Regions from separate parts of the Homo sapiens genome. Here regions 1 and 3 are each reported to be linked to region 2. Evidence: microRNA targets listed by miRTarBase, many of them from high-throughput screens and not tested one by one. Region 2 holds a microRNA gene; each other region holds the end of a gene's coding sequence.

Region 1 (4,000 bases), not on the chromosome of region 2:
GATGTTCAACTTTTGCCAGTGACCCAAAGCACAAAGGTTAATCAATATTTTACTCTATGTAAAGTAGTTGGTCTGTGGCATTCAAAGTCAATAATCCAGAAATACATAATTAGAAAAGCATTCAAGATAAACATATGACAGCTGAAGCTGTCACATTTTTCTCATGGTCATAAAAACAGAACAATCAATCTTTAAATTAAAAATTTTAGTATTCACTTGTTAAGTGGTATAGCATCTTAATATTTTAAATGTTGAATTGTCTTCCAGACATGGAGTTCTAACTCACCTTTTTACTACTGGTTTAAGGAATATTTTCTATTTCTTGATTCAATAAAATATTTCCTCCATATATTTCAAAAATATAATGCATGAAAAAGAACCAAATCATATCTAAGAGAAATGAAGGGTAAAACCAAACAACTTTCAACCCAATGTGTGTCATGCAGGTAAAGTAAGGAAAAAACTGAGCAAGTTCCAAGAGTCTACCAAGAAAACTGTTTTGCAGCTTCATCTGTTGAATGAACCTTAGGTTTCACAAATAAGGTATACTAAATGCCTAATGCTATGTCACAGATTGAAGTGAAGGAAAATTCTCAAATAAGGTTTTATTGTGAGAGTAACTTAGGGGAGGTATCACAATACAAAAATGCTGCTGTCTTGAATAGGTCCCTATCTTATTTATCCATCTGAAGATATATTTCTGTTAATGTCCTTAAAAGCTGTTAGTTATATAGGGTTTAATGAGCCACAAAACAAACAATATTTTTGTAATATTTTGTGACAATCTCTTGAGTGTTGTAGAAGTGAAGAATTTGGTCCCAGCACCAAAGAAAATCAGTTAAACTCAGTACATTAAACAAATTTTCTTAAAGTTTTGATAGACATAACCACAATAGCAAATCTAGCAATTTTAATGTATTTAATGTGAGACAAATGCCAACAACTCTCTCAGGCCTCTGCTTCATTTAACTGTTTACAAATCATGTGGTTACTCTAAAGTCATGAAAATAAATATTATTATCAGAGGCGAAATTCCTTATTCTCACCTATTTTAATGCAGGGACAGCCTGTTCTAGCCACTTTACAGCAGAGGATTACCTGGGGCCACCCATCTGGAGTAGGCCCTGTTGACAGCTGCTACTGTGTACACAGGCTGTACTCTGTGTATACACAGCATGTATGCCCATGTGGGAGGGAGAAGCCAGCTAGCAAGAGTTAGAGAGATTATGTCCTGGCAGAGGCATCTGAGACAGAAGTGACACGAACACAACTACAAATGGGTATTTAAGGCCCAAAGAGAGAGTGTTAGGCTAAATCTCTAATCATTAATAGTAATTTGCTTGGTAATTTGATGGAAATTTCAACATTACATAGTATTCTTAATAGACACCAATGGGTAAGAAACTGAAAAATGTGCCTTATTAAAAAATTCCTTCTAATTTCCAAATAGAACAACTGTAACAACTCTCAGGCTCTGAGAATACTGTTCCATATATGCAAGCTTTGTCTACAGTTAAATTGCTTCAAAATAAATCAAAGGCTTTTTACTAATTTAGGTTGTGTCGAGTGTAGCTTGTGCTAAGTTCAGGAATGATTTTTTTTCCTGCATATGTTCAGAATGTGCAGAACAGAATTAAAGTGAAAAAAGCCAGAACAGATACTGTGAATTGACTGTACCCACGGGACACATGAGTCTCTAGAGAGAATACCTATGGTTAGGTACTCTTTTCTAGCTCATTACGGGGAATGAGTTCAAAGAAGACAACCGGTGCCCCTCCAGCATCTAAGTCTGGTTTTCTAAACGCAAAATGGAGACCAGCACTCCCCCAACAATATCTGCAGGAAGGGAAGGCTTCCCAGGGCCGTTGTTCATTCTTCCTTTCCACACTACCCCAATTCTCAAGGCGATGCTGCTCATCCAGGCCAGTGCCTTGGAGGATACTCATGTGTCTCGGGACACACGTCTCTTCTGGAGACACGGGAGGGCCAAGGTCCCAGGAAGTATAATCCACCCAAATCACAAGCCATGTTTTCGTAAAGGCCTCTTCTTTCATTGGGTTTGAAGGATATTATGGGTATTTCTCTTAAAATCAATAAGTTTGCAGAAGTTACCTTTTTACTCCAGCATATATATTTAAGCAATTAGATGATAGTAGTCTATGTACAAAAATTGTAAGGAAGCTCACATTCTAATTTGGTGTTGACTACATTTGTTACTGGAAGTTACTGAACCCAATTAAAAAAAATCACTAATTGCATCCTGTTTACAGGAGTCTAAATTAAACATTGTTTTTGTTACTTATGAGGCTTTTATCATCACAGAAAAAGCAGTGTTTGGTAATCTGCTATTTATAGTTCCTGACCAGAACCTTAGCATTCTCAGTAGAATATCACTGGAGAACACCTGCACAGTATCAATTTAGTATTATCCCTAATTTGATGGCTCTTTTCAAGAATTCAGTCCCATGTACTTCCTCTAGGGTAAGAAAATATGAATATGTCTGGTCAGAATCACAGAGATGCGCCTTGCCTTCAGTGCAGGAAAATGGGTCTATATAAATCCATGTTTAATGTAGGCAGTTTTCATAGTCAAAAGCTTAGCTAATGTTCCTAATATAACTTTCTTATATTTATTAACAGCAATAAGAAGGTTTATAAAAAGAGTTGTCTGCAGATGTTTATAAACATTAATTCATATTTCATATTTTACACATTTAACTGTTTTTATTTAATGTTATCTGGCCTAGGAATGAATCAAATATGTTCTCATTTTTTTCATTATGGTTCTTATCACCTATTTATAATTTGTGTGGTTACAGCATTCTTACTGCAATAAGACTAGAAATTATAACAATGTTTTCGCCAATAGTGTTTTTGCTACTTTCAATATGAAGCAGGGATTTTAATGGAACTACTACTGTGTGATAAATTGAGGCAGTTATACAAAATAATACATGTATAATGATACAATAATGCTATTTCTATGAACAACATCATATTTTTAAAAACCCAGTGAGTATTATTTTCAATTTGTTAAGGTTGCAAACCTTCAGTGAAGCTTGTTTCTCTTTTCTTGTTCCTTCTTTCAAATTGAAATGACATTTTTGTTTATAGAGCTCCAGGTCAAAGGATCTAACAATTTTTAATAGCAATTTCCTATAGTGAATACTTGCTTTTTCTTCCTAGTCTTGCAGCAAAAAACTAAGCAAGCTTTGACATAGAGGGACGCATGTGAATACCGTAAATTTATACACAAACTCCCATAAATACTCCCTTTCAATCTAACACAGAAGACGGGGCAGGACGGACGCAGCAGTTGGGGCGTCGGAAGTTCTGCAGCATGGACTGGAAAACACTGTGCTGCCTTCCTCTGAGCTTCTTATTTGAAGAAGTATCTGAGGAAATGGATCTCCGGGTCTGGCTATTTTGAGTTTTGATTAATTTCTCATGTTCCCTGATTTGTCTTTGCAAATGGTTCTGGATCGCGATTCCCAGGGACTCTGCGTCCAAGGATGCACCATACACTTCCCAGGTCATTCCCTGCTCATCCCACACGACGTCCCTGACACGCTTGGACTGTTTCAGCTGGAGCTTGGAGTCTGCGCCAAGCTGCTTTTTCTTATCTCCTGGAGTGAGTCCTACCTGAGCAGCAGCTGCTGTCACATTTAACTTTTGCTCCTTGAGGAACTCGCTGACGCGGCTGGGCCTGCGTGGGCTGGCTTTGACGGAGCGAGATGGGGTCTTCTTGCCAGAACCTGGGCTGGAGTCACCCATGGGATCAGATGGCAGGCTCAGGCTGGTGGCTGTCTTGGTCTGTCTGTTTTCTTCTAAGGTGCTCTCCTGGTTCTTCCTAATTGGGGAGGGTGTAGGATTAGCAGCTGATTCTGTGCCTCCACTTTCTTGGGATTTAGGATTGAGCAGTAGGGTTTTGGCATCCGAGGTATCAGTGCCAGTAGACTCTTTTTCTTTTACTACCTGAGGAGATGCAGGCTTCTTTTCC
Region 2 (4,695 bases):
GAGAGGAGGGTAAAGGGGCGGCTGCAATCTGGGTAATAACCCTATCCCCACTCCAGAAGTCACAGTCACATCGTTAAGCCTTCCTCCCCTCTTGTCCCAGGACAGCTTTAAAAACGTTAAAAGCATTTCTGCTGGGTAGCATCTGGCCAGGGTCGCCCCCTCTGTCTGCTCAGGAACGTCTGTCACTTCAGAGAGCTTAAGTGACTTGCCCCGGTCACACAGCAGCAGTCCGATAGGCTGCCAGGGCTCTAGGGGCAGAAGGAGGAGAGGGCTGGCATTCTTCCCACCGGCCCGCGTGACTGTAGCACCGGGGTGCAGCGAAGCCCCAAGGGCCCCAATCCGTGAGCTCTCTCCCATCCCAGGCAGGGGTGGGGGAGCAGCAGTGGGGTGCTGGTTCTCAAATGCAAGATAAGAGCTGGCTAAGAAAGCCTTGCCCAGCCCCTCCACCTAGAGGGAATGGGAGGGAGAGAAGCTGAGGGCAGGGTCCCGGTCCCGCGTGGAGACAGCTGCGCTCCCGCGGTTTCTTTAAACGCCCAGATGGGCAACGACGCGCGCGGACGAGGGCGGGGTTGGGTTCAGGTCTGGTCACATGACCTGGCCTGAGGTGCTCGCGGCCCCCACCCCACCAGTGGGCGTCCCCCCCACGCGTGGTCGACCATCATTGGTCGGTGGTGAGGCCAATAGAAATCGGCCATCTGGGAACCCAGCGTTCCGAGGCGCAGCCTAACATAGTGAACCGACGAAGGTCCAATGGAAAAAGACGGCCATGGGCATAGACCAATGACAAAGTGGCAGGGGCGGGCCCAAGGGCTGGGTCAGGTTGGTTTGAGAGGCGGGTGGGTATAAAAGTGCAAGGCGGGCGGCGGCGTCCGTCCGTACTGCAGAGCCGCTGCCGGAGGGTCGTTTTAAAGGGCCCGCGCGTTGCCGCCCCCTCGGCCCGCCATGCTGCTATCCGTGCCGCTGCTGCTCGGCCTCCTCGGCCTGGCCGTCGCCGAGCCTGCCGTCTACTTCAAGGAGCAGTTTCTGGACGGAGGTAACGCCTGGTCCCGCCTCGAGGCCGCCCCGACGACGCGGCCGGCCCCCGATCCTGGATCTGCGTTGTCGCCCGTAATTACCGTTTAGAGGTCCAACACGGTGGCCTCCCGGGACTAGAGCCGCGGGCGATTTCTCTTCTGCGTCCCTGGGGAGCGCGGAGGGCGTAGCGGCCTCCCGCGGCGGGAGTTAGGGTTAGCCCGAGGATCTCTGAAGGCACCCGACGTGTCAAACTAGAGGTTGGAATGGGGAGTGTCGGGGATCTCCTTTCCTGTCCCCAGCAGCTTGTGGCTCTCGGCAGATGTTTGGTGTGGGGGGGGATTAGCACAGCCGCTCTGACCTACCCCTCTAATCCCCCACTTAGACGGGTGGACTTCCCGCTGGATCGAATCCAAACACAAGTCAGATTTTGGCAAATTCGTTCTCAGTTCCGGCAAGTTCTACGGTGACGAGGAGAAAGATAAAGGTAAGAGCCTAGGAGTGGGTGCTCAGATCCGGGAGGACTTCCTGGCAGAAGTCCTTGTCTGTACACACACAGCCGGGACAGTCCCCTTGGAGGAGGACAGGTGGAGGAAGTGGGGGAGTCTTCTCTATTCTCTAAGTCGAGGGTCCTCGCGAGTCAAGGCCCAACGGTGACCTCACTACCGTCCCGTCTCAGGTTTGCAGACAAGCCAGGATGCACGCTTTTATGCTCTGTCGGCCAGTTTCGAGCCTTTCAGCAACAAAGGCCAGACGCTGGTGGTGCAGTTCACGGTGAAACATGAGCAGAACATCGACTGTGGGGGCGGCTATGTGAAGCTGTTTCCTAATAGTTTGGACCAGACAGACATGCACGGAGACTCAGAATACAACATCATGTTTGGTGAGGGCCTGCTTCCTGGTGCTGATCTCTGTCCCATTAGTTAGAGGGAGACCCAGACCCCATTGACTTTCTTAATAATGATTTTTTTTGGAAGGGGAGCTAAAAGAATAAGTCCCAGCAACAATTTATTGCATTATGATCGCAGATCTAGGCTGTTAATTTAATTTGCGTGTTTGTATATAGTTATTTCCCAATCTTACTAATGAGGATTTTGAGTTCTAGAGCACTGATTTTTTTTTTTTCTCCTTTAAACTTAAGGCTCCACCCACAGCCCATTCAGGACAGAATCAGGGTCTGAGTTTCTCTTCTCAGCCTTGACAGACCCGAGTTGAAGAACCAGGTCTTCCTTTTATAAAGAGGGGTGAGAGCCTCGAGATGATGGGTAGTCTCTGACTCTTAACTGGATCTGCTTCACACCTAGGTCCCGACATCTGTGGCCCTGGCACCAAGAAGGTTCATGTCATCTTCAACTACAAGGGCAAGAACGTGCTGATCAACAAGGACATCCGTTGCAAGGTGTGCCTGGGGGTGGTGGCAAATGGCTGTCATGGGGAGATTCAGAGGTCAGCCTCATTGGGGGGTGGCCCCCGCTCACCTTCTTCCTTCTTCAGGATGATGAGTTTACACACCTGTACACACTGATTGTGCGGCCAGACAACACCTATGAGGTGAAGATTGACAACAGCCAGGTGGAGTCCGGCTCCTTGGAAGACGATTGGGACTTCCTGCCACCCAAGAAGATAAAGGATCCTGATGCTTCAAAACCGGAAGACTGGGATGAGCGGGCCAAGATCGATGATCCCACAGACTCCAAGCCTGAGGTTGGTGTTTGGGCAGGGGCTCTGCTCTCCACATTGGAGGGTGTGGAAGACATCTGGGCCAACTCTGATCTCTTCATCTACCCCCCAGGACTGGGACAAGCCCGAGCATATCCCTGACCCTGATGCTAAGAAGCCCGAGGACTGGGATGAAGAGATGGACGGAGAGTGGGAACCCCCAGTGATTCAGAACCCTGAGTACAAGGTGAGTTTGGGGCTCTGAGCAGGGCTGGGGCTCACAGTGGGGAGTGCACCAACCTTACTCACCCTTCGGTTTCCTTCTCCCTTCTGCAGGGTGAGTGGAAGCCCCGGCAGATCGACAACCCAGATTACAAGGGCACTTGGATCCACCCAGAAATTGACAACCCCGAGTATTCTCCCGATCCCAGTATCTATGCCTATGATAACTTTGGCGTGCTGGGCCTGGACCTCTGGCAGGTGAGACTTGGAGGAAAAAGGAGGATCCCTGGGGTACCTCAAGTGCATAAGATCACCCAAGAGGAAAGGGACAGGGTAGGCACCCCAGGTGAGTCTGACTCAAAAATGGTACTTCTTGTAAACAGTACTTCCTGGTCTGTCCCTGTGAAGTCCTCACAGCAACCCCTTTAAGGTTATACTTGCTGTGCACCAAGTACTTCCCCAAGTACTTTTATGCAAATCAACTTCTTTACCCCCAAAGACCTAGAAGGTGGTCAGGTAACCCAGTTAGTTAGCTGGGGCTGGGCACAGTGGCTCACCCTTACAATCACGGTACTTTGGGAGGCTGAGACAGAGGATTGCTTGAGGCCAGGAGTTACACAACTCAACCTAGCTTGGCAACACAGCGAGGAGACCCTATCTCTACAAAAAAAATTTTTTTTTTTGAGACAGAGTTTCACTCTTGTTGCTGAGGCTGGAGTGCAATGGCACGATCTCAGCTCACTGCGCCCTCCGTCTCCTGGTTTCAAGCGATTCTCCTGCCTCAGCCTCCGGAGTAGCTGGGATTACAGGCATGTGCTACTATGGATGCCAGGCTAATTTTTTTTTTTTTTTTTTTTTTTGAGACCGTGCCTTGCTCTGTCGCCCAGGCTGGAGTGCAGTGGTGTGATCTCTGCTCACTGCAAGCTCCGCACGACCCCCCAGGTTCACTCCATTCTTCTGCCTCAGGGTCCCGAGTAACTGGGACTACAGGCACCCCCCACCATGCCTGGCTAATTTTTTTGTATTTTTTTTTTTAGTACAGACATGGTTTCACCGTGTTAGCCAGGATGGTCTCCATCTCCTGACCTCATGAACCACCCACCTTGGCCTCCCAAAGTGCTGGGATTACAGGCGTGAGCCACCTCACCCAGCCTTTTTGTAGAGACAGGGCTTCATGTTGCCCAGGTTGGTCTCGAACTCCTGGCCTCAGGTCATCTGCCCGCCTCGGCCTCCCAAAGTGCTGGGATTACAAGGGTTAGCCACCATGCCTAGCCTCTACAAAAACTTTAAAAATTGGCGAGATGTCATGCATACCTGTAGTCCCAACTACCAAGGAAGAAGGATGATCACTTGAGCCTGGGGCATCGAGGCTGCAGTGAGCCATGATTATGTCACTGCACTCCAGCCTCGGTGACAGAGTGAGACCCTCTCAAAAAAAGTTGGGACTTGGCCGGACACAGTGGCTCACACCTGTAATCCCAGCACTTTGGGAGGCCAAGGCGGGTGGATCACAAGGTCAGGAGATGGAGACCATCCTGGCTAACATGGTGAATGAAACCCCATCTCTAGTAAAAATACAAAAAATTTGCCAGGTGTGGTGGTGGGCGCCTGTAGTCCCAGCTACTCGGGAGGCTGAGGCAAAAGGATGACGTGAACCCGGGAGGCGGAGCTTGCAGTGAGCTGAGATCATGCCATTGCACTCCAGCCTGGGTGATAGCGAGACTCTGTCCCAAAAAAAAAAAAAAATGCTGGGACTGAATTTTTGTCTGTTTTGGTCACTGAAATACCTTCTGTGCCCAAGAC
Region 3 (4,000 bases), not on the chromosome of region 2:
CCTCCTTGCTTGTCCGGGCTGGGGGAGCAGGGCCAGAGCTGCAGGATCAGGCTGTGGTTACAGATGGTGATTACAAACATTGGGCCTCAGCCCCAAGAAGCAAGTCCCATTCCACAATGGTGGCCTTCCTCCAGGCACTGGGGGCCTCCTCTCTCTCTGGATCTGCTCAGCTAGAGCTGAGTGGCTGGAATAGAGAGGCAGTGACCCAGGGAAACAGGAGCGAGGAAACTGTTTACTTGGGTTGGGCTCCTGGCAGGGCCTCTGCTGAGTGACTCAAATGCCAATTTACCAAGGCCTTAACAACGATGGCCTCCAGGGGTAGAGTGTAGGGAGATGCTTTAAAGAGGTAGGACACCATTGCTGGGCATGGGGCAACTGAAAACTTTGTTATTGGGGGTTCCTGATTGAAGGGGGAACACCAGAACAGCCTTTTCGTCACTTCTGACTCAGGTATTGGGCAACTGTCCTGGCTGGCCACATGATCAGTGTCACCTGGTTTACTAATAATCAGGAGCTCCTGGCTCCAGGAATAGGCTGGATTTGGACTTTTCTAACCAGCCCTTTTAATCCTGGGCCTAGCTTCAGCCTGAAGGCGGGTGGGGAAGCAACCCAGACAGCAGCTGTCCAGTTCTGTCAGTTCTCTTTTGCCTCTAGAACCATCCCTACCTCCGGGATGTTGTCTCCACCAATCAGCTCCCTCCCCTAACTATGGTCACAAACTAGGAGAATTAGGAGGCGGGGCTGGCCCTGGCCGGGTTGAGAGGCCTGCAGCCCCAGGCCCCAGGAGCCAGACAGGACGCATACCCCGGGGCTCTTCTACTCTTCCTGGCTGCTCAAGCACCGCCAGTCAGATCAAGGCAGCTAACAAACTTGCATGGACCTTTAACTTCCTGCTACTTCTCTTCTGCTTGCTCAGCCACAAATCCCCCAGATGGCTTGGGGAGCCCTGCACTCCCTGCCTTGCACTGTTGTTTTTCCCTCCAGGGTGAGTTGTTATGTAAGAGCAATAAAGAGCTGATAACGGTGGCCTGCATTTTATGGAGATTTTACTATGGGTGTATTTTAAATGCATTCTCCAACTGAATATTCAAATTCAAGCCCCTGATAGGGGACCAGGGAAAGAGAAATACTAAGAAGTTTCCTGACCCAGGAAACCCCAGGGTATACAGCCCCTAAGAGGCCACACCCGACTCAAAACAGGCTTGCCCAGACACTTGAGGTCTTTCTGCGCTTCACAACGCACCACTCTCCCCTTTCCCAGACCTGCACTGGGGCAGGGGTGGGGAAGGGGTTACGAGGTCTTCAGACAACCTACAGGACAGGAGGCTGTAAAGTACAGAAAAAAATTTATTGGAAATCCCTTGAATACATTTTGAAGTGTAGCTCGGTATTTCCAAACAAAGTAGGTTGGAGAGGTTGGAGGAGGAGGAGGGACTCTGACACCTGGAGACAAACAGCTGGTCCCAGCCTGTCCCGGGGGTGCTGCAGGAGTCAGTCTAGGGCTCATTCCTTTCATGGCAGGTCTGAGGGGCAAGGGCTGGCCTTAACAGTTGCTTTACTTCTCCCAAGCTCAGCTCAAAGTCATGGCTGAGACTCTTCACAGATGGAGCCCTGGTGAAAGGCTGCTGCCACCTGTAGATGCCAAAGATTGCTGCCTCAGACAATGGCTAGGCCTTTCCATGCAAGGCCTTGGAAAGAGAGCAGTAGCTGAAATATGGGGGCATCAATAACTTACCAGGGGCCTTCCCCCTTCTCAAAGCTGGGGCCTTGGGGATAAACCTGAGCCTGGGTTCAGCAAGCCACGCATGTGCTCTGGGCCAAAGTCAGGAGGGCCAGTTGGCTGCTACTGCTTCTGCTAACACTTCTTGGTGGCAGCAGCAGCACGCAGAGCTCTGGTCCCCGCCAGAGCCTGCTCCAATCCTCAGAAGTCAGCCTTGTATGTGGGAACAGTGTCACATGCAGTATACTAACAAGCAGCTGAGAACCACCTGCTCCACTGAAGCACAGCTGCTGCCAGTGAATGCCCCAGGTGGGCCAGGAGGAATGGAGTAGACCTAGATCTCCTTGACCAGGACTACCAGCGAGGCTGGGAAAGGACAGATCATAGGTGGGTGAGGCTAGGCACTTGACTTATTCAAGTAACAATACCTGAAGGGTTAAGTCAATCATACGCCCAGCTTTGATTTCTCAACCAGAAGCCAATCCAGCTGGTAAACCCCAGGGCAGTGTAGAGAACCTGGGATTAGAGGGAGATGGTAGCTAGGCCCAAGCAGGAGGAAAAGCTCCACAGGACAGCCCCAGGGATCAGGAACAAGTACCCAGGCAGTTGGGGGACACACACAACATCCCCTAACCACTACATGTGGCCATCACATTTAGCACCCAGGACTTCCTGGGCTGCCAGAATGGAGTCAGTCACTCTGCAGAAACTGTGGGAGATGTAAGGCTCTCACCAGGAATACGCAACTATCCAAGGTAAAGCCTTTAGTCAGTTCCAGTGCAGCCACACTGGGAGGTGACTTTGCCCCCGGCCAGCCCTCTTCTTGGATCTCGCTGTCTGTATGGTGGGAAGATCCTCAAAGCAGCAGCCCGGATTCTCAATAACCTCCGGAGGAGGAGGTCTCCGTCCCAGGAAGAGCCCTCCGCCTTCTCCAAGTGAAAAACAACTCACCTCAAACATATTTCCTCTATAAAATATCTGGTTTCTCTGAAAGTAATAAATATTTACCATGTTCTATAACCAAGGAGCAGCAACGGGGGGACAAGAGGAAGAGAACTTTGCTGTGACTCCAAGTGACAAAATCCTAGAGATTCAGGGTGCCATTTTTATTTCCCATGGAGCTGAGGACCTGAGCACAGGCAGCCACCAGGGCTGCTCAGACCCTCCCGACCTTCAGGGGTGGGAGTGGTTTTGGAGTTCTGATCTTGGGTAGGCAGGCCTGTCATATTGCCAGAAATACAGGCATAGAGGCAAGAGAGAGAAGAAGAGGAGAAGAAGATAGCAGGAAGTAAAGGGGACAATGAAGAGAGCTAAGGGACTCCTTCCTTCTTCCTCCTGGCACTGTCTCCTTCCTCTTTCTGCGACTCCACACCAATCTCTTGGCCACCAGCTGGAATGTCAAACAGTGGATGGTGACAGCAGGCAGGGAAGGGGCCAGCTGCAAGGCAGGCCCAGGCAGGAGGCCGGCAGCAGGAGGAACAGGATGACACCCTTGGGAAGCAGTTGGTGATGGGCAGGGCACACAGATGGCCCTGCTGAGGGCTTTTTCGTACGAAGGTTCTTCCCATCTCCAAGGCCAGCACGTGAGTCTTCTCCAACTGGGCACTGGGCTTGACTGCCGCCACGGAGTCTCCAGGAGGTCCAAGAGTAGGGACTTCTGGGTCCCCATGGGAGAAGCCAGCCTCCCTTCCACCTGGCTCAGAGCAGGATGAGGGGTGGGAGCAGCTGATGCATGGGAGGCTGCTTATGCCCTGGGGCCACAAAAAGGGGGTGCTGCTGGGACTCAAGGATACTTTTACTGCAGGGTTTCCACAAAGGCATCAAACTCGCGGACATTCTTCTCATGCACAGCCAGCTTCTCTGGTAATGAGTCCTGTACCGGAAAGAGAGGGAAGAGCCGTTTATTCAGGCAGGGCCTTGAGGAGGCAGCCAGCCCAGTCCCGAAGAGGGGAGGCAGCAAGCAAGACGAAGCTCAGCCCTAGCTGGGCCGAGCAAGTGGGAGAACGCAGGGCAGCTGCGTAGGCACAGGGTAGGGAGGGGTATATGCATCAGGGCTTTGCAGGGGCTGGAGGATTAATGGAACGGCCTTGGGAGTCCAAGTGGGCCACACACTTAACAAAAGAGAAAAGGACCACAAGAGCAAGATGATTCAGAAATTAAACATGAAATATCCCTGGCACAGATCTGACTGACACTAGAATAAAATACCAAGTGTACAGCTCTACAAATTAAACAGTTTACAAAAGATTTCTTCACACCCTTTGCTGGGCATCGGGACCC

What was found. The annotated mature microRNA hsa-miR-6515-5p reads UUGGAGGGUGUGGAAGACAUC and lies in region 2 at 2,749-2,769, shown strand. An mRNA with a match to its seed (bases 2 to 7 or 8) in the 3' UTR can be bound and repressed. Matches are read on the target gene's strand: a 7mer-m8 pairs with bases 2 to 8, a 7mer-A1 pairs with bases 2 to 7 and ends in A, and an 8mer does both.
Region 1: miRTarBase lists GPRIN3 as a target of hsa-miR-6515-5p. Seed matches in the 3' UTR shown: 7mer-A1 at 1,932-1,938.
Region 3: the mRNA of ATG13 is a reported target of hsa-miR-6515-5p. Seed matches in the 3' UTR shown: 7mer-A1 at 1,417-1,423.

Annotation. Positions count from the first base shown.
Region 1 is chr4:89,244,504-89,248,503 of GRCh38, forward strand. GPRIN3 (GPRIN family member 3) reads right to left here. Exons shown (of 2, transcript NM_198281.3): 2 at 1-4,000. The coding sequence ends at 3,277. Among named protein-coding and RNA genes, the nearest start is that of GPRIN3, 61 kb to the right of the region's middle.
Region 2 is chr19:12,937,738-12,942,432 of GRCh38, forward strand. MIR6515 (microRNA 6515) reads left to right here and starts at 2,747; the gene lies at 2,747-2,803. CALR (calreticulin) reads left to right here and starts at 872. Exons shown (of 9, transcript NM_004343.4): 1 at 872-1,033; 2 at 1,397-1,498; 3 at 1,691-1,894; 4 at 2,316-2,410; 5 at 2,506-2,715; 6 at 2,804-2,917; 7 at 3,007-3,150. The coding sequence starts at 943. RefSeq lists enhancers at 314-423, 494-543, 1,170-1,919, 1,214-1,263, 2,156-3,355 and 1 more and a cis regulatory region at 474-1,112.
Region 3 is chr11:46,671,848-46,675,847 of GRCh38, reverse strand. ATG13 (autophagy related 13) reads right to left here. Exons shown (of 19, transcript NM_001346311.2): 19 at 1,330-3,593. The coding sequence ends at 3,516. Among named protein-coding and RNA genes, the nearest start is that of ARHGAP1, 27 kb to the left of the region's middle.